Homo sapiens: one gene and its partner. The protein of the gene in region 1 interacts with the protein of each later gene in a pairwise test. Each region holds a gene or a part of one and is shown on either strand. Other genes may lie near its edges. The genes, in order: CAMKK1 and GARRE1.

Region 1 (10,657 bases):
TGGCTTTGGGGGCCTCCTGGGCTCTGTCCACCAAGCTCTCCCCACCCCCAAACCAAGCCCGGAGTCCCAGCCAGGAAATGACTCTCCTATATGCACAGTGCAAACTTCCATCCTCGCCTCATCCTGAAATCCTGCTCAGTGCTCAGAAGAGAGCTCAGGTGCCACCTCCTCTAGGAAGCCATCCCTGAGGCCAGCACAATGAGTGAGGGGGCTTTCTCTCCAGATGTAACTCCTCTTGCTATCAGGTGCCTCTTATGTGGGGAAGACTCCACTCCAGCCACGTCAGCCTCCCTGCTGTTCTTCATACTGAGCAAGCACTGTCCCCTCATGGCGTTTGCACCTGCTGGTCCCTGCACCTGAAATGCTCTTCCCCAGATAACTACACTGCCTACTGCCCCTTCCTTCCTTCAGGTGTCTGCTCCAGTCCTGCTCCCAAAAGGCCTTCCTCAACTACACTGTATCAGCAGCATCTCCCAGCCCCTTTCTCTTGATCCTTCTTACTCGGCTGTATTTTTCTTCCTATATGTACCACTTGACATATCATATCTGAATCACTGGCTTTCTTGTTTGTTGCTTCTTGCCCCCACGAGAAATTAAACTGTATGAGAGCAGAGACTTGGTCTTTTTGGTTCACTGCTGTATCTCCCCACACAGGCTTGCACAGAGTCTGGCAGACAGCAGGTGCTCCGTGACTATTTGTGCTTGCATCCCAGGCGTCCATGTCCCTGGCTGCTCCCTAGCCTGTGACCCCCCCCCCAACCTTGCCCCCAGTCTGAGGCCACTTCTGCTCCTCTATCCATGACATTCCGAGTTCCTGGAAGGCCAGGTCTGGGAGAACTATAACCACATTTGCATGTTGGAAATCCCTCCAGCAGCTGGTGTGGAGGATGGGGTAGGGTGGGGTGGAGGTGTTAGCCTGGAGTCAGGGAAGACCCACATAGTGGGAAACGAAGCAGTGGGTAGAATCTGGACTTCTAAGGGGTTTGACTTGGTGAGCTCACCCAGCAGGTAGTGGGGAGATCAAGGAGGGCTCAGAAGAGGCGATGTCTGAGCTGTCCTCCAGGCAGCAGAGGAGAGGGAGGTGTGTTCCTGGCAGAAGGCACAGCTTGTACTGAGGCCTGGCAGCAGAACAGAGTATGCAATTTGGGAAGCTGTGGTGTGGCTGCAGTGGAGAGTAAGTGTGGGGTTGTGGGGAGCAAGGGTGGGCAACAGGGAAAGGACGAGTGACAAGGAGGGCTCCCGGATTGCTGACCTGGGTCAGGAAAGAATGGGGAGGGTGTGGTACCCGTCTCGCAATGGAGACAGAGGAGGACGAGCAGGTTTGGGGAAGATGCTGAGTTGAATCTGGGGCCTGTTGGATCTGAGCTGCTCGGGAACATGGACGGGGAGGTGGCAGCTAGCTGGAAAGAGTGGGGCTGGAGGCACAGACCTGGTGTGGAGGATGAGGAGGGGCAGAGGATGAGGCCTGGAGACCATCAGCCTCCGTGGGTGGGCCAGGACGATGCGCTGGGGGTAGCTGTGCTGAGTCAGGCAACAGCCCGTATTGGTGCTTGGGGGCTCCCCAGGGATGGTGGGAGCGGGCGTCCTCACAGCAGGAGTCGTCAAGCATGACTTGGCACCAGACGCCTGGGCCTCCCTCAAGGGGACTGAGTCATCCCGGGTGGGGGCGGGAGCTGCGGAGGGCACCCGTTGCCAGGGCCATCCAGATACTCGCCAGGATCATAAACACAGCTCCAGTGAGGCGGCCCAGGCATGGGAGGACCACCTTCTGTGTCTGGCCTGGGTGGCCGCCACCTCTGCGGCTTTCCCTTCTGTTCGGTCCTCTGCTGGTCACGGCTGTCCATCCCCTCGCCTGGATGTAGCTGGTCCCCTGCCTCGGCTTGGCACTGGGGTTCACAGCGGCCTTCCAGCGCTCAGAATGAGGCCTGACCAGGGCCTGACCAGCTCCCAGGTGGAGCTACTTGAACCCGCGTGGATGGCAGCAGGGTCTGCCTGCTCTGGGGCTCCTTTGAGGGATGCAGCTGGATGGGGCATGTCCTGTGGAAGAAGCCAGGCCAAGTGGGCGTCTGGAGCCGGGGGCCCACATTCCTTGGGAGTGGCCAGACGCTTGGGGGGTGGGGCACAGCCTGGGAGGAAAAACCTGGGTGGGGGATATGTGCCAGGCCATCTTGGAGCTGGGGGCAGAGGTGGGGTTGGACCTTGCACATCAAGGCTCTCTTGGACGCTTCTAGACACAGCCACATCCCAGCCCCACAGTGCTGTGGCACAAACTACTCCTGTGTCCACACCTCATTCTGTTCCTTCCATCGCCCTGGGAGTTGGCAGGACAGTGGCCTTCTGCTTGATGCACGTGTTAGGAAACAGAGGCTCCAAGAGGCTCGATGACTTGTCCGAGGCAGCAGATCCCCAGTCTGGGGGGACAGGATTGCAGTAGTTTTTCCCAATGAGGGAGGGCTTGAGTCTGGCTGTTCACGGCCGCAGGACTAAGCCAGTGCCCATGCCCACAGGAATCCTTCGCTGTACCATGGGCCTGGTTCCCGGCCTGTCTGTCCATCTTTCTGTTTGCCCACATGGCCCTAGTTATCCACCGAATTAAGTTTCTACAGAGTATCTACTAAGGCCTGAGCTTGGGAAGGGCCTTGAGACACCCCCTGTGTGAGCCTCCAGATGGGCCTGGGTTTCCGCCCGGGGCACAGAATCCAGCCCAGCAGGCAGTGCCAGGCTGGTGGGACCAGTGACTATGGGGAAAAGTCCAGATATGAGCTCTGGGATCAGGCTCCCAGGGCCCCCAGGGGCGCGGACCACCCCCCTACCCTGGGCATAGGTACACGGAGACCTGCAGGCACACAGGCGCATAAACACACCTGCGCACACACACATCACACCGAGGTTTTCATCTCCATGCAGTGCGCTCCTGTGTGGGGACCCACAACACACACACACACACACACACGCCACCACCCTGGTCCACAGCCTGCGCACACATATTCCCTCCTGTGGGGACACACGCCCTCACACACGCGGCCGGGGCGCCAGGCCCTGTCTCCCGGACACGCGGCAGGAACCTCGGGCCTCCCCGGCCGGCCGCCTCCCTCGCAGACGCGCTTAGTCACCTGAATTTGATCCAGGCGGGAGGGAGGGATGGGGAGCCTGACGTCAGCCCTCGCGGCCGCCTTCCGCCCGCCCGCGCATCCATCTGGGCCTCAGCGTGTCCCGAGCAATCACAACAGCAGCCGCACAACAACAACTCACTTTTACGGCCTCCTTAGTGGCAGGCACTGTTCTGAGCGCCTTACGGGCGTTCCCTCCTCAGCATCTCACCACGTGCGGTGAGGTGAGGCCCGCTAGAACCCCATCTTGCGGGCGAGGAAAACCCAAGGCACAGAGGCGAAGCCACCTGCTCACGGGCTCCCAGCCAGGAAAGGGTGCAGCCTGGCTGCCTGGCTTCAGAGCCTGGGCGCCAAACCGGGTAACAGGGCTCAGGCTGGAACAGGAAACCTTCTGCCCCGACTTGCTGGGTGACCCCGGGCCCATCCCCACCCGCTGGGCCTCCCTCTACCTATCTAAGAAAAGCAGGGAAAGGTGTTCAAGGGTAAAGGAGGATGGCCTCTTGCTGGAATGGCAACCTCAAGGAAATACGCAAATTTTATGGGCCCGGGCAGCCTGTGGCTTCTGCCTGTGGCGGCTCTGAGTCCCGTAGTCCCTGCCTAGGGCCAAAAAGCAGGAGCTCCTGACTCTGGAGTTCATTCTGTTATATGTGCTGGGGCCTGAGGCTTGCTGGGGTTGCCTCTCTGAGGCTGCTTTCTCATCTGTCTAATGGGGACAGGGCTGTAACGATCACTATGGCAACCACTCATTTATTCAACAAATATTTATCGAGTTCCTATCACATGCCAGGCACTGATGATCTTTTGGAGACAAGGCAGATGAGCGTCCTAATCTCATGAAACTTACATTCGGGAGGGAAAAACAAGGCATGCGGAGTGAGGGGAAGGGGCGGAGGGGTGGGCCACCTGCTGGGAGGAGCCTGGCGGGTCCTGGAGGGTGTTCCCAGCTTTGGCTTCCTCCTTCCTATGCTGTCTGGTTTCCAAGCTCTCCCCGAAGCTCCAGCCCCACTCACTGTCCCTCTCACCTCCTCCAGGGAGGCCTCCCTATGCCACAGCCTCTCACCTCCTCTGGGGAGGCCTCCTTATGCCACAGCCCCACTCTCTGTCCTCTCTCACCTCCTCCAGGGAGGCCTCCCTGTGCCACAGCCCCACTCCCTGTCCCCTCTCACCTCCTCCAGGGAGGCCTCCTTGTGCCACAGCCGCACTCACTGTCTCCTGCCCTCTCTTCCAGGGAGGCCTCCCTGATACTCTAGCCTCACTCAGCCTCCTCACCTCCTTCACCTCCTCCAGGGAGGCCTCCTTGATGTTCCAGCCTCATTAACTCCCTCTCACTCCTCTGGGTCCAGCTTCCATGACTTTTCCTGTTCCTAGTGTGGAGCCTCCTCTCTTCCTTTCTCCATGTCAGCACCAGCCCCACCGCCTCCAGGCTTCTACTCATTCAACACACTGCGTACCGGGCACAGGGGGTCTGGACCTCACCCTTACCCTCAGTCTACCTCCAAACCCTGCTGTGAGCCTGGAAAATATGGGAAGGCAGGGAATCCACAGGACAAGTCGGGAGACTGGGGCTCAGAGTCGGGAAGGAGCTGGTCTAGGGCCCCTGGTGGGTCAGCAGGCAGGACTGGAACCCAGTCCTGGCTCCTCAGTGGCCGGTGGACTCCAGCCAGCCCTGCCTCGCTGACATCTGTCAAAGCAAGGGGATGGGGAACGAGCGGTAGAGCAGGCGCTTCACCATGCGTACTCTGGGTCTCCCTGAGACCCATGTTCTCAGTTGCTGTGTGGGTTCGGAGGAAGTTACCAGCAGACAGGAAGGATGGAGGGTCAGGAGTTCACTCACTTCCTTCTCCTGAGAACATGCAGAGTCCAGCGCAAGCAGGGGGAAGGGCATCAGGTTGGGCATGGCCAGCGCTCTACAAGCCTGGGACAGAGATGGGGGTCTCAGGCTGAGTGTCAGGGTTCAGTCCGGGGTCAGGATGTAGCCCAGGGTCATGGCTGAAGGTGAGGGCTGGGGGTCACCTCCCTGATGTTTCAGCCGCCACACAGTGAGTTTGAGAACATGAGTCTCAGGGGATGTCATGCCCCTGTTTCACCCCTCATTCCCCTCATTCTCATCCCCTTGCTTTTTTTTGAAACCGAGTCTTGCTCCGTCACCCAGGCTGGAGTGTAGTGGCGTGATCTTGGCTCACTGCAACCTCCACCTCCCAAGTTCACACGATTCTCCTGCCTCAGCCTCCCGAGTAGATGGGATTTCAGGTGCACGCCACCATGCCTGGCTAATTTTTGTATTTTTAATAGAGACAGAGTTTTGCCATGTTAGCCAGGCTAGTCTCGAACTTCTGACCTCAGGTGATCCACCTGCCTCGGCCTCCCAAAGTGCTGGGATTACAAGTGTGAGCCACCATGTGGGGCCCATCCCCTTGTTTTGACAGACGTCAATGAGGCAGGGCTGGCTGGAGTCGGGAGCCCCAGGGAAGTCTTCCTGGAAGCAGTGAGAGGGATGGGGGTAGGAGGCTGAAACATCAAGGAGGGCTCCCTGGAGGAGGCGGGTGGGTCTGAAGCATCAGCAAGGCTTCTGAGTTACTAGTGTCTAGCTCAGCTTCCAGGAGGCAGTGTCGGAGTGCTCTGCTGTCAAGGGTTGGGACTCATGACTCACAGGGCTGCATGCTGTGCTGGGGCTGAGCTGACCCTGGGCTCTGCCCCTTCCAGTGCTGCTGGGCCTCCAGGCTTCTGCCCTGTCTGTCCTGATTCCAGAATATCAGATTCTCTCTGCTTCCCTGTGAAGCCAGCAGGCAGAAGTGACTGCCTCTGTTACCGGCAGGGATACTGAGGCCTAGAGGGCTGGCATGCGGCAGAACCGATGTGAATTCATTCAGGTCATAGGGACAGACTTGAGTTTGGGTGTTGGCAATCCCGGTAGAGGGAACAGCCAGGGCAAAGGCATGGAGGTGGGACCCACAGCGCTGTGGCTACCTTACCTGGTAGCCAGCCTGACACCCAGGAGTGAAGCCTTCTCTGCCTTCTTTTCTCAGGTTCCCAACAAGGCTACGCAGAAGAACCCCCTTGACTGAAGCAATGGAGGGGGGTCCAGCTGTCTGCTGCCAGGATCCTCGGGCAGAGCTGGTAGAACGGGTGGCAGCCATCGATGTGACTCACTTGGAGGAGGCAGATGGTGGCCCAGAGCCTACTAGAAACGGTGTGGACCCCCCACCACGGGCCAGAGCTGCCTCTGTGATCCCTGGCAGTACTTCAAGACTGCTCCCAGCCCGGCCTAGCCTCTCAGCCAGGAAGCTTTCCCTACAGGAGCGGCCAGCAGGAAGCTATCTGGAGGCGCAGGCTGGGCCTTATGCCACGGGGCCTGCCAGCCACATCTCCCCCCGGGCCTGGCGGAGGCCCACCATCGAGTCCCACCACGTGGCCATCTCAGATGCAGAGGTTGGTGGGGCAGAACGAGGGGTTGTTCATGAGCCCCTCAGTAGTCTGCAATGAAGACTCTTTCCTGCCCCTGTCTGTGCCACACGGCTATCTAGCTTTGGTTTGCATACCCTCAGAGCTGGGGAGATCACTACCTAACAATATAGCTTCTTCCCAACCAGGGGAGCTCCAGCTGAGCCAAAGGCTGCCTTCCCTAAGTCCTGCTATTCCCACTCCCAGCCCAGGCCTAGGAAATAGGTCTCTCCCTGGTCCCCTATGTAGTCTTCTTAGAGATGTGAAGATAGATGCTATGTCCCCCTTCCCCCCTAACTCTTCTCCAGCTTGCACCCCTCGCCTCTAATTCTGCCTCTTAGAGTCTGCTGTGACTCAGAAGCGGCCGGCCTGCCTCCAGCCTCTGGGCTTCTGCTGGAGTTCTTGCCATTTAGGTCTGAAAGTGAACTCAGGTTCCAAGCAGTCTACAGATGTCAGGGGCTGAGCTTTCTGTGCCTGAACCCAGGCTCTCAGCCTCTGTGCCCAGGGCTCCTCATCTTGTCCTTGGAGTCTAGACCTTCTCATTCAGCTGCTTCTGGAAATAGTTGCTCATGGGTTTCTCATGGATTAGGGTCTTCCAGACTCCAGAATCCAGACAGGAATTAGCGTTTTCCCTTCACCACTGCTTCTGGGGAACAAGGCACAGCCATGGCGTCACCATCCATGTTTTCAAACATGAGCCACGTCTTCTCGTCACATACGGGGGCGATGGCACCACCAACTTCCCCATCCAAACTCAAAAGCTTGGTGAGACCTGGGGGTCCGGGAATGAGGAGCTTATGGCCAGAATTGGACCCTGAACGGGCTCTGAGGTAGGAGCAGTGCTGCCTCCGGACCCAGCTCCACCTGGTGCTCGCTCTTCCCCCACAGGACTGCGTGCAGCTGAACCAGTACAAGCTGCAGAGTGAGATTGGCAAGGTAGGAGTGGGCAGGCCGAGAGCAGTGGGGGCTTCGGGATTCTCTGTTTGGCGCTGCTCCTTCTCTCGTGTGGGAGGGAACGGGAGGCAGAGCCAGGCAAGTCCTAGCCTGGAGGTGAGGACAGTTTCGTGCCCTGTGGGAAGTACCCAGGTACCCAGGGGGAGGGTGGAAGATGGCTCCTGATTCCCGACTCTCTGAGTTCTTGACAGTGGACAAGGAGGGACTGAGGGAGGCATGGAGCCATGTGGAGCCAAGCAGGGGCAGTTACCAGGGCGCAGGAGTCCCCTCCCCATCTGCTACAATATTTGCCCGTGAGCCAGCTGGTGGTGGGTAGTGCAGATGGGGTGCAGGAGAGACCAGAGCTGCTCGGCTCCCCACCTCCTGAGCTGGTCCTGGGAGGGGTTGCCCTGTCCAGGTGGGGCTGACTGATGCCTATCTGCAGGGTGCCTACGGTGTGGTGAGGCTGGCCTACAACGAAAGTGAAGACAGACACTATGTGAGTCTGGGGATACGAGGGAGGTGTTGCCCAAGCCAGGCCCTGGAAGCCTGAGGGGTGGGGCAGGAGTTGTGCTTAGGAGATAGAGGACAGGGCTGCCTGAGAGTGAGCTCCCTGTCCCTAGGGGTATGCAAAGGAATGAGCTTCCTAACCCTGGGGATATGCAAGCAGAGACTGGATTCCTCTGAGGGGAAAGCTCCAGAAAGGCTTGCTGGGGGAATAAGGGGAAGGGCTAGGCTCAGATATGGCCACCCCCAACCCCGCTTAACACTTACCTGGGCCACACCCTCAGGGCCAGTAGCAGATGTCCAGTGTGCCTCTCCGGACCTCAGTCCACATGTACCAGCCTGTTCTAGCCCCTGGTGGCTGCACAGTAGTGACATTTCTGTCCCTCCTTCCTTAGGCAATGAAAGTCCTTTCCAAAAAGAAGTTACTGAAGCAGTATGGCTTTCCACGTATGTATCTTCTGATCCTGTCCCTGGGAGCTCCTAGCCTGGAGGCAGAGGAGGAGACCTCGATCCTGAGCTAGTTTTGGCTAGGAATGGGGTAGAGAGGGAGACAGCGTGAGCAGAGGCCTGGGGACAGAATGTGCCCTGTGGGTTGGGACAAGACCACGGGCATGCAAGACTCTTGCTTGAGACTGGTTTGGGGGCCACGGTGAGGCCCAGCCACCTGGAACAGGTGTTTGAGTTCTCTTCCTGGTCACAGGTCGCCCTCCCCCGAGAGGGTCCCAGGCTGCCCAGGGAGGACCAGCCAAGCAGCTGCTGCCCCTGGAGCGGGTGTACCAGGAGATTGCCATCCTGAAGAAGCTGGACCACGTGAATGTGGTCAAACTGATCGAGGTAGGGGGTGGTGGTGAGCAGGTGGGAACCAGCACCTGAGTCTCATGGGAGCCGCTTCTGGTGCTGGGGAGCCCCTAGCACAGACCCAGGGATCTTGCCCAGGTGGCAGATGTGGCTGAGGCCTCTGAGGACAGGGCCAGACTTGGGGTGGGGCTGCAGGAAGGCTTTGGGGGCCCAGCCTGGTCAGGGATGTTCCCAAGTTCCCATGGAGGGTGAGGGGCTGCCCCAGAGGCAAGAAGTGAGCCCCTCATTGCAGCTGGAGGGGAGGAAGGCTGGATGTCGTGTGGCGGGCCAGGTTGGGGGTCGGTGACTTCTGAGGCCCCATCAGTCTGGCACCACCTGTACACTTCCTGCTTCCTTGTCTGGGGTGGTTGCATGCATACTAAGGGTTCTGGGGCTGGCAAGGACCAGGAGGCCTGGGACCTCCAACCCCACGCCTCCTCAAGCCCCACCCCCATGTCTGCTCCCTCTGACCAGGTCCTGGATGACCCAGCTGAGGACAACCTCTATTTGGGTGAGTGACCTGGCTCATTCCCACAGCAGCTCACTCAGGGCTGGCCCAAGGGCTCCCTTGGGACATGTATGACCTTCAGGTGGGCGGTGTAAATGCACTGACCTCCTGGGGACAGAAGAAAAACACACGTTCTGAAGCCCTGGATTCCCTTGCCCAGCCCTGCAGAACCAGGCCCAGAATATCCAGTTAGATTCAACAAATATCGCCAAGCCCCACTCCCTGCTTCCCTCTGAGCAGCAAGACAGTGGATCCACGTGGGCTGCGCGCTCAGGTAGATGCAGGAAGCAGGCTGCATGGGTTCCCAGACACTGTAGCTCTGTGCCTCAGTTTTCCCACCTATAAAACAGGGATACTAGTGGTGTCTACCTCATAGGGTTCCTGTGAAGAGTAAATGAGTAATTATATGTAAAGCACATTCGTTATTATCCTTGTTAATAGTAATGTTATTATTTTAGTTCCTTGTGTCTGGTTCAGGGCTGGGCTTAGAGGAGGCCTCAGAAAATGGGGCAGAAGAAGAACTGGCTTAGGAATTAGAGGCTGAGGCTTTAGTCTCCACTCCCTACCCTACCTGCCTGTCTGCTATGACCTTTAGGAAAATTTCTGCCCCTTCTCTGTGCCTCAGTTTCCCCCTCTGTAAAAGGGCCCCATGCTGATGCTGATGGTTCTCACCTGGCACCTGAGGATCAGATGAGACAGGTCCATAGCAGACCCCACTCTCATGCATTTATTTGCTCTCATATCCCAGGGTCCCCTGTCCTGTCCCTGCCTCGAGTATGCCTGCATGCCTGCCCCCTCTCCTACCCTCCAGAACAGGGAGGGACCTTGGCATCGGCTGCTTTGCCAGCCAGCTACACCTTACCTTCTTGTCTTTTCTTTCAGTGTTTGACCTCCTGAGAAAGGGGTGAGTTCCCCGTCCTGATCAGGCAGGTCAATTCTCATCCAGGCCTTCCTTCCTTTCCCTCCCTGTGTCCCCAGCCCAGGGGTCAGCTACTCTAGGAGAAGTCAGAGACGGAGGCCCTGCCCTTAGGGGTAAATAAGAGACCAAGAGGACCATTCTTTGAAGGCTGATGGGGGTCAGTGAGGCTGAAATAGTCAGGGAGACCTCTGGAAAAGGGGACGGATTTTGACCCAGGCCTTGAAGAACTAGGAAGATAGGGATGGAGGAGAGGGGGAAGAAAGGAGTGTTTTTTAGGTAAAAGTATATAGAGGTGGGACTCAACTCTTACCGGTATTCAAATCACAAAGGGTTTTTCAGCTTTCCAACAAGTCTGTGAATGGAGTGGGTGGGATTCCAGTTGCTCCCATTTGTGAGAGGGAA
Region 2 (10,657 bases), on another chromosome or scaffold:
TTGATATGGTCTTTTTTTTTTTTTTTTAATAAGAGACTGTTGCCCAGGCTGGTCTCAAAACTTCTGGCCTCAAGCGACCCTCACGCCTTCGCCTTCCAAAGTGTTGGGATTACAAGTGTGAGATATTACACCTGGTCTGATTGTTATCTTAGAATAAATTTACAAATGGGGTCAAAGGTAACTTTATTTGTTTTTTTTTGAGACAGTCTCCCTCTGTCACCCAGGCTGGAGTGCAGTGGCGGGATCTAGATTAACTGCAACCTTAGCCTCCCGGGTTCGAGCGATTCTCCTGCTTTAGTCTCCCGAGTAGCTGAGATTACAGGCACCCACCACGCCCGGCTAATTTTTGTATTTTTAGTAGAGACAGGGTTTCGCCCAGTTGACCAGGTTGGTCTCGAACTCCTGACCTCAGGTGATCCGCCTGGCTCGGCGTTCCAAAGTGCTGGGATTATAGGCGTGAGCCACCGTGTCCGGCCGTAACGTTCAATTTTTAAGAATACATAGTATTTGTTTTCCTTTGACATATTTGGACAATTTTTCTGTCTCTTTGTCATAAAAAAAAATTCCAGCCTGGCGCGATGGCTCATGCCTGTAATCCCAGCACTTTGGGAGGCCGAGGCGGGCGGATCACTTGAGGTCAGGAGTTCTAGACCAGCCTGGCCAACGTGGTGAAACCCGGATTCAACTAAAAAAATACAAAAAAACACATTAGCCAAGCATGGTGGCGCGCTCCTGTAGTCCCAGCTACTTGGGAGGCTGAGGCAGGAGAATCGCTTGAGCCCAGGAGGCGAAGGTTGCAGTGAGCCGAGGTCGTGCCACTGCGCTCCAGCCTGGGCAACAGAGTGAGACTCCATCTCAAAAAAAAAAAAAAAGAAATTCATGTTTGCGTCTCATCGTTTCATGGTTTTATTTTTTTGCCTTTAGTCTACCTAAAATTCATTCTTGGTTTAAAATATGAAATATTTTGTAAATGGCTAGTCAGTTCCAGATTTATTGAATAATATGTAAGCTTTATCATTTTATCATATTTTAGACTAAAAGTTCTAAGTGTATGTTTGTAAGGGCTACTTACAAAGTTCATATTTACATTTTGTGTGTGCTTAGATGTTTTCAAGTGTCTTTAAAAATCACAGTATTTTCTTTTCACAGTATCTTCACAATATTTTGTTTTAAAAAGAAATCATTTTCCAATACAAGTACAGGGAATATTTCATGTTTGAGATTTTTTTTTTCTTTTTAAAGCAAAAAGTTTAGTTTATTGCCGTTTCATTTGCTTTCTTGCTGACAAGATAACAAACTCCATATGAAGAGTTCAGGTTTGTTGTGGCAACTTTTCAGTGTGGCATTTGAGATTCTAATCTTCCTCTATTTTTGCACACAAATACGTAGGTTGGCATTGGAGACCAAGATAGAAAAGTTCTCAGATTCCCTTGGCAAGCCTAGATTTTTCAATCTAAAATTATCTCCAGATGTTTGGAAGACCATGTTTTAAGCATCCTTTTTTTTTTTTTTAAGCAAATTGCACATGATTCTGTGAAAATTTTAGTAAATGTTTGTTCTGTTGAAAACCTATAGCCTAATACATCAGGATCCATGTGTCAAGTGGGTCTTCCAAGTCTATAGGAAATAATTGTTTCTGAAAGCTAGCAGGCTGGGATATCACATGGGTTGGGTGTCCACTCTCTTTTTTTTTGAGTCGGAGTCTCCCTCTGTCCCCGAGGCTGGAGTGCAGTGGCGCAATCTTGGCTTACTGCAACCTCCACCTCCCAGGTTCAAGCAATTCTTCTGCCTCAGCCTCCCTAGGAGCTGGGATCACAGTTGTGAGCCACCACCCCTGGCTAATCACTCTTTTTTCCTCCTGTAACTTTGTCCTTAGTGAAAAATGATGATCTTCCTAGGTAGGCAAAAAAATGTTGGTTTAGATAAGGAATTGATTTGTTTTGGAGTTATTGAAAAGCAGGTTGCCGTTTTCTCTGAAGTGTAAGTTCACAGAGAGCCTGAATGTTGTGTTTGGATTAAGGAAAAACAGCAACAGGTTGTGCTTGTGCTTCAAATGTCTTTAACTCTACTGAAACTGCCCTCTTGAGGGTCCCCTAACTGATGCATGCAGTGGCCATTGCTTAATTATTTTCCTTGACTTTGATCTCAGGTATTTGGCATGGTGAGCTATTCTTTCTTGCTCTCGTGAATCTCCCATTGATTGGCCTTCTTTTTTCTTTTTCTTTTTTTTCTTTTTTTTTTTTTTGAGACAGAGTCTTGCTCTGTTGCCCAGACTGGAGTGCAGTGGCTCGGTCTCAGCTCACTGCAACCTCTGGCTCCAGGGTTCAAACGAGTCTCCTGCCTCAGCCTCCCGAGTAGCTGGGATTACAGGTCTGCGCCACCACCCCCAGCAAATTTTTGTATTTTTAATAGAGATGGGGTTTCACCATGTTGGCCAGGCTGGTCTTGAACTCCTGACCTCAAAAGTGCTGGGATTACAGGCGTGAGACACCACGCTTGGCCTTGATTGGCCTTCTTGACTTGGAACTAGTGTGGTCATTTCCTGAAATCTGTGACTGCACTTTCTCATTTGTCTTTACTGCTTCTCTTCATACATCTACCTTGGGGCATTTTCTGAAGCCTAGTTTTGTACCTCTTACCCCCGCTCCAAAACATATTCCTTCCCACTTATCCAGTATATGAGTCCTGGGTAGAGAACCACCTCATTTCCTTACCTCTGCCACCACTTAGTGACCCCCGACTCAGAGTTTTCTGCAGGTCAATTCTTTTTCTCCTGTTCAGTAACCCCTGGACATGTTCCTGAGGCCATGCTTTCTCCAGGTGAAGAAAATATCACTTCTGGCCGGGCGCAGTGGCTCACGCCTGTAATCCCAGCACTTTGGGAGGCCGAGGTGAGCGGATCACGAGGTCAGGAGACCGAGACCATCTTGGCTAACATGGTGAAACCCCATCTCTACTAAAAAAAAAATATTAAAAAATTAGCCGGACATGGCGATGGGCGCCTGTAGTCCCAGCTACTCAGGAGGCTGAGGTAGGAGAATGGTGTGAACCTGGGAGGCGGAGCTTGCAGTGAGCTGAGATCGTGCCACTGCACTCCAGCCTGGGCGACAGAGTAAGACTCCGTCTCAAAAAAAAAAAGAAAAGAAAATATCACTTCTTTGCGAGGACAAGGTGAGAGGATTACATGCTCTCAGGAGTTGGAGACCAGCCTGGGCAACATAGTGAGACCTCTGTCTCTTAAAAAAATGAATTTTAGGTCTGGCACAGGGGCTCATGCCTGTGATCCCAGAAGTTTGGGAGGCCAAGGTGGGAGGATTGCTTGAGATCAGCCTAGGCAACATAGTGAGACTCCAAAATTATCTAGGTGTGGTGGTCCATGCCTATAATTCCAGCTACTTGGGAGGCTGAGGCCGGAGGATTGCTTGAGCCTAGGAGGTTAAGGATTCAGTGAACTGTGATTGTGCCACTGCACTCCAGCCCAAGCAACAGAGCGAGACCCTGTCTCAAAATAAATAAGTAAATAAATAAATAAATAAATATCACTTATCAAGGTGTCCTGTCCTTCCTGACTCTTAAGGTTCTTACCAGCCGGTGAATCACATCTTCCTTCTTGATATGGATTGTATTTGCCATTTGCTTTCTATCCCTACACCTCGATTTAGACTTTGTACCTTTTCTTAAGGGATTTCAGGCTTAACGTGGTCCTACTCTGGATGTGAAAGAGGAGACCCAGTGAATTTACTCAAGAATTGAGTTAGCTCACATTTATGGAGTACCTACAGTACAGCCCAGTTACTTTACTGGAAGATCAGAATACAGAGCTGGACAGCACATCCTGGGAAGAATGCCAAATAAGCAATTGTCATAAAGTATTATAAGTGCCTAGAAGGGGAGTCACCAAGTAACCTCTCCCAGGTTTCAGAGATCTTGCGTGTCTTATTTACTGCTTTGATCTCCAGGGCCTAGAACACAGTGCGTGGAAATGATGAAGTTTTTTTTGTTTGTTTGTTTGTTTGTTTTGTATTTCATTCAGTTTAATGAGGGGACATGAGGAGCCAGGGGCAGAATGATATGGTTAGGCTGTGTCCTCACCCAAATCTCATCTTGAATTGTAGTTCCCATAATCCCCACATGTGGTGGGAAGGACCTAATGGGAGGTAATTTAATCATATGAGCAGTTTCCCCCATGCTATGCTTGTGATAGTGAGCAACTTCTCACAAGATCTGATGGCTTTATAAGGGGCTTCCCCCTTCACTTGGGTCTCATTCTTCTTGCTGCTGCCATGTGAAGAAGGACGTGTTTGCTTCCCCTTCTGCCATGAATATGTTTTCTGAGGCCTCCCAGCCCTGGGGAACTGTGAATCAATTAAGCCTCTTTCCTTTATAAATTACCTAGTCTTGGGCATTTCCCCATAGCAGGGTGAGAACAGACTAATAAACCTTATTTTAAGAAATTGCCACAGCCACCCCAACCTTTAGCACCCACACTCTGATCAATTAGCAGCCATCAACATCACGGCAAGACCCTCTGCCAACAAAAAGTTTACCACTTGCTGAAGATGCAGATGATCATTAGCATTTTTTAGTAATGAAGTATTTTTAAATTAAGGTATGTGCATTGTTTTTGTGACAATGCGATTGCATACTTAACAGACTACAATATAGTGTAAATATAACTTTTATATGTACAGGAAAATAAAAAACATCATGTGACTTGCTTCATTGCGATATTCACTTTCTTGAAATGATCTGGAATGACACCTGCAATATCTCCAAGATAAGCCTATAATATCTTTTCCTGATAATTTTGGCTATATACTTCTTGATCACCTTTTCTATGACAAGGATTTGGTAATATCATTTTTTTATTTTTATTTTATTATTATACTTTAAGTTTTAGGGTACATGTGCACAATGTGCAGGTTAGTTACATATGTATACATGTGCCATGCTGGTGTGCTGCACCCACTAACTCGTCGTTTAGCATTAATGAAGTATTTGTTGAAGGAATGAATGATCATCTGAGAATGAAATCAGAAAAAATGTCATACACATTAGCTATCTATAGAAAAGATATAAGTCAAAAGATATTTCGTAAATGTAGTTTGAAGAATCTCAGGGAAAACTTTAAATTCAACCAAACTGACCCAGCTATAACCCCAGGAAGGCATGCATGGAATGTGTTTGTAGCTGGAAAGCTTAAACTTAATTTTGTATCCTCAGAAGAAATACTTGTGTTTCTGGGAGAGGATTGGGACAGTGTCTGGAAATTGGGGTGGCGGGTCCAAGAGAGGAATTACGTGGTGTGTGTGTAGCACTCTCTGGGGGCCTGACCAGAGGAGCAGTGCAGCGTTCCCTCCACAAAGCCATCTGCACTAACACACAGATGGGCGTGTCCCTGTTGTTGCCTCTGGCTGCAAGGGTCTCTCCCTTGCTTAGCGTCTGTCCTCCCAGTACCATCTGAGTAGAAGATAGCTGCACGTGGAGATTTCTTGGTAAGGAGAGAATGTGAGTGGTTGAGGGCTCTGCATCTAAGCTGCTTGGATCAGATCCTGGTCTTGGGATGCTGGCTAATCTTTCAGTTTTCTGATTTGTAGAATGGGGATAATAGTAGCACCTTTCTCTTAGTGTTGCAGTGAGGGCTCTGAGCGTGCTACCCGGCACCTGTGATAAGTATTCAATGACAGTATTAGCTCTCGTTGGTATTCATAAAGTAGTAACTGGCCTCTGGTTCATACATCAGTTTTCTTTGAGCTTAGATAGCCTAAATAATTAATCCCCATGGAACTGCTTGCTTCTGGGTGCATTGAATAAGCTGATAAACAGACACTGGGAAGTAATGACAGATAAGCTCTTCCTACACTGCTCATCCAGGGAATCCAGCCTGCAGTTCTCAGGGGAGACTTCTGGAGAAGGCTGTTCTTGAGCTGAGTACTGTGGGAAAAAGTAAGTCCAGTGCCACAGCAAGAGGGGAGGACTCTTGGGCAGGGGCATGACACGTCCAAAGGTGTGGAGGTGAGAGCAAGCATGAGGTATTTGAGCTGCAGGAGATTGAGGGTAGAGTCTGGACAGGTATGAATAAGGAGTAGAGGGAAATGACATTGGAAAGTGGGAGCAGTCCTTGAAATAACTAATAACAATGTCTAACTGGGCACTAACAGCACTTCAGGTCCTGTGCTGAGTCCTTCGACTCACTGCGCTAACCAGGTTTGATGCTGAGAGCTTTGTCTACATTGCATTGTTTAATCCTCACAACAACCCTTTGATGTAGGTACTTACCTCTGGTATGTGTGGCATCATGTCACATGTCACCTGGTAGGTCTCCCTGCCTTTTTTTTTGAAATGGAATCTTGCTCTGTCACCCTGGCTGGAAGGCAGTGGCAGGATCTCGACTTACTGCAACCTCTGCCTCCCTGGGTTCAAGCGATTCTTCTGCCTCAGCCTCCCGAGTAGCTAGGACTACAGGTGAGTGCCACCATGCCTGGCTAATTTTTGTATTTGTAATAGAGGCGGGGTTTCACCATATTGGCCAGGCTGGTCTTGAACTCCTTACCTTGTGATCCGCCCACCTTGGTCTCCCAAAGTGCTGGGATTACAGGAGTGAGCCACCATGCCCAGCTGCTGCTTTTTTTTTTTTTTTTTTTTTTTTTTTTGAGGCGGAGTCTCTCTCTCACCCAGGCTGGAATGCAGTAGTGCGATCTCAGCTCATTGCAACCTCCACCTCCTGGGTCGAAGCAATTCTCCTGCCTTGGCCTCCCAAGTAGCTGGGATTACAGGCATGCGTCACCACGCCCAGCTAATTTTTGTATTTTTAGTAGAGATGGGGTTTCACCATATTGGCTAGGCTGGTCTGGAACTCCTGACCTCAGGTGATCCGCCTGCCTTGGCCTCCCAAGGTGCTGGGATTGTAGGCGTGAGTCACCTCGCCTGGCCTCTGCTTCTTGATTCAGCCTGCACATGGCTGCCAAGATAACTCCCAGTGTCTTATATATGTTTAAAAGCTTTTTGTGATCCTGTTTCCTGATGAAGTCCAAGCACACTAAGATCCTCTGACTTCATGAAAAACCACGAAGTTAAAATGTAAAAATATTTATATCTTAGAATTTAATAAAAACAGGACAGGTGCAGATGTGGATCAAGCTCAGAGAAATCAGTGAAAGAAGCAAGGTACAGAACAATGTATGTTTGCCCATTTGTGTTTTTCTAATTTTAAAAAATTTCTCCACTTTTGAAGTAATATGAGCTCATTTGTTTAAAAAAATATATATAGGCCAGGCATGGTGGCTCACGCCTGTAATCCCAGCACTTTGAGAGGCTGAGGCGGGCGGATCACCTGAGGTCCAGAGTTTGAGACCAGCCTGACAACATGGTGAAACCCCACCTCTACTAAAAATACAAAAATTAACTGGGCATGGTGGCGGGTGCCTGTAATCCCAGCTGTCCAGGAGGCTGCAGCAGGAGAATTGCTTGAACCTGGGAGGTGGAGGTTGCAGTGAGCCAAGATCGTGCCACTGCACTCCAGCCTGGGTGACAGAGCAAGATTCCATCTCAAAAAATAAATAAATAAAAATAAAATAAATAATGTCTCCCTCTCTCGATAGAGAGATAGATAGATAGATAGATAGATAGATAGATAGATATACATGAAATAGGTTTATAAGTGCAGAAATAATTTATGGAATGATAGAAAAGAAACAGTGGTTGTTTTTGGGATGAGACCCCAGAAAACCAGGCTGTTAGGCTGAGTTAGCTTTTTCTTTGCATACCATTTTGTATGGTGTGAATTTTTTTCCCTGTGTATATGTATTTTCTTTTTTTTCTTTTTTTTTTTTTGAGACAGAGTCTTGCTCTGTTGCCTAGGCTGGAGTGAAGTGGTGCAATCTTGGCTCACTGCAACCTCCGCCTCCTGGGTTCAAGCGATTCTCCTGCCTCAGCCTCCTGAGTAGCTGGGATTACAGGTGCCCGCCACTACGTCTGGCTAATTTTTGTATTTTTAATAGAGACAGGGTTTCACCATGTTGGCCATGTTGGCCAGGTTGGTCTCGAACTCCTGACCTCAAGTGATCCATCCACCTCGGCCTCCCAAAGTGCTGGGATTACAGGCGCGAGTCACCGCACCCGGTCTATGTTTTCATTTTAACAATAACTTTTAAAATAAATGTCTATGATGGACATGGCTGTTGTGTAGAGTGAATGTAGCATGGAGGTTAAGAGTGAGGACTGTGCAAGGCGGCTTGGGTTCAAGGCCTGCCCCTGCCTTGACCTCAGTTTACCTCCTCTGAAAATGGGGAGGTAGTAATACCTGCCTCCTGGGGTTGTAGTGAGGCATTACTGAGTTAATATTTGTAAAGTCCTTGGAACAGTTCCCAGGAGGTATGTGTTTGTCGTCGTCTCTGTTGCTCTGTCCCTGTGCTATGCATGACCGTAAGTGTAAAGATGTGTCCAGCCTCTGTCTCTGATGCTCCCAGTTCATTTGGAAAGGGAGAGCATGCAGCTAATGACAGAGACAGCAGAGGCTGCAGGAGTCAGAAAGGCTCCTTGGGAACTGAGGTGGCCCAAGATGGTTTCATCAAAATGATGGTTGTTAAATATGGGTAATTTCTAGAGGGAAAATAACACAAAGGGACTTTTTCCATGTTGTGTGTCCCAGCCAGCCTGAGGCAGGCAGAGGAGTCAGAAACAGGACAAGAGCTTTGAGGAGGCCTGAAATTTGGACGTGTCATGTGATGACATGTCTTTTTTTTTTTGGAGGGGGGGACGGAGTCTTGCTCTGTTGCCCAGGCTAGAATGCAGTGGCATGATCTCAGCTCACTGCAAGCTCTGCCTCCCCGGTTCACGCCATTCTCCTGCCTCAGCCTCCTGAGTAGCTGGGACTACAGGTGCCCGCCACCATGCCTGGCTAATTTTTTGTATTTTTAGTAGAGACGGGGTTTCACTGTGTTAGCCAGGATGGTCTTGATCTCCTGACCTTGTGATCCGCCCACCTCGGCCTCCCAAAGTGCTGGGATTATAGGTGTGAGCCACCACGCCCGGCTGGCATGTCATTGTTATATGGCAGAGTTTTTCTTGGCATATATGAGACAATGATATGATTTGTAAATGGTGACATCTTTGACTCAGTGAAGTGTGGTTGCTCTGCCTTGATGTTTGGAATGGCTATGAGGTGTTCTGTGTGACGTATTTAACAATCCTCGTAATGCAGGGCACGTGGGAATAACCAGTGTTGCCAGTGAGTGTTCTTGACGCAGGCCTCTACATTAACCGTGAGTCTGTTCTAGGATTCGTGCCTAGATAGAATATTGCTTTTCTTTCTTTTTTTTAAGTCATTTTGATTATGTTCCTTGTGTCTGGGCCACTGTCAGTTAAGTGTGTTTTCAAATTGGCAGTGGCAAAGAATCATAATGGGAAGATTTTTGAAAGTGGAATTAGAGCAAGATATTACCTGAAAAAAAATCTGATTTTCTTACTAAAAATGATTTTGGGATTAAGTACTAGTGAGATGCTAATTATGGCCAGGAAACCTGGAAATAACTCGCATCTTCCCTCACCCCACCCCCGGTCCCCGAGGTGGATATATGTTCATGGGAACAGAGTTTGGGGAAAGCTGGCTTGGCTCCCAGACTTGGGTGCCGCAGGCTCTGGTGACCTAGGCAGGAAGAGGCGGAAGTGGTTCCTCTCACCAGCCACAAGGACCTGTGCTGCTCCTGGGTGTCAAGGTGGGAGAGAATGCGCTACATCCTTGTGCTTGAGTCACTTTGTAATGTACTTTGTAATTCCAGGTGATGCCCCTCCTCAACTGTGTCCCTTCTGTTCCTGCCTTTGGCTTGGGGTTGAAAGAGGAGGGAGTGGTGGGCACGGAAATGGGAGGAGCCATGACCTCTTTCCCCTCCAGCGCATAGGGCATTACTTCTTTTAGTTTGTTGCCTGGACTTGGGAGTTGGGCCCAGAGCTGCAGGAAGGTAAGTTTTATTTCTGAAAGTTGTTTTAACTTACAGATTTTGGGGGTTCGAGGGAGTTTGTTTTCGACTAGTAGAAGACAAGAATTAAGAATTGCAGTGGAAGATGAAATGCTATCTTCTTACTAATCCACGCCCTCTTTCAGAGCAGTAGCTTTCATTTACGGAGACTGAGGGTATGGCAGAGGCTGTGCTTTATGGATTTAATCCTCAGCAGTACTGAGGCACAAGAGTTAGGCGACTTGCTCAAAGTTAGTAAGTGCCATTTATTCAGCTGATATTTACTAAGAGCAGGAATTCACATCTAGATCAGTCTGATTCCCATACCCGTACCAGTAACTACTGCATTTTGGAAGTGCGTCGTTTCCATGAAGTTTCTTTGTATTGGAGCATCTACCTGAAAGGCAAGGGCCTGAGCATTTTCTCCTTTTCCCTTATTAACGGTAAGCTCCTTGAGAGCAAGCATTATGTCTGTCTCTTCACCACTGCATCCTGGGTTCCTGGAGCAGTGCTATGCACTTAGGAGAACCTTAGTGAATGTTTGAGTATGTGAAGGCTCATGGCGCAGATAAGTGGCAGAGCCAGAAGCCAGCCTGGAGGTGAACCACTGCGGGCCTGCTCTCTGGGGCTGTCTTCCCTGCCTAGCGAGTGGATGGTGAGGAATCACCTAGAATTTTCTCATTTCTTAATGTTTGACCTGA

The links.
Region 2: the proteins of CAMKK1 (region 1) and GARRE1 interact in binary tests that used the Homo sapiens proteins (3 or more experiments, as listed by UniProt).

The regions. Positions count from the first base shown.
Region 1 is NC_000017.11:3,881,210-3,891,866, reverse strand, and holds part of CAMKK1 (calcium/calmodulin-dependent protein kinase kinase 1), read left to right. Parts: intron 1-1,123; exon of another isoform or gene 1,124-1,136; coding exon of another isoform or gene 1,137-1,174; intron 1,175-6,136; coding exon of another isoform or gene 6,137-6,179; coding exon 6,180-6,539; intron 6,540-7,439; coding exon 7,440-7,487; intron 7,488-7,929; coding exon 7,930-7,983; intron 7,984-8,386; coding exon 8,387-8,438; intron 8,439-8,691; coding exon 8,692-8,825; intron 8,826-9,302; coding exon 9,303-9,339; intron 9,340-9,496; coding exon of another isoform or gene 9,497-9,610; intron 9,611-10,218; coding exon 10,219-10,240; intron 10,241-10,657. UniProt on the Homo sapiens protein: Calcium/calmodulin-dependent protein kinase that belongs to a proposed calcium-triggered signaling cascade involved in a number of cellular processes. Phosphorylates CAMK1, CAMK1D, CAMK1G and CAMK4. Involved in regulating cell apoptosis.
Region 2 is NC_000019.10:34,255,663-34,266,319, forward strand, and holds part of GARRE1 (granule associated Rac and RHOG effector protein 1), read left to right. Parts: intron 1-10,657. UniProt on the Homo sapiens protein: Acts as an effector of RAC1.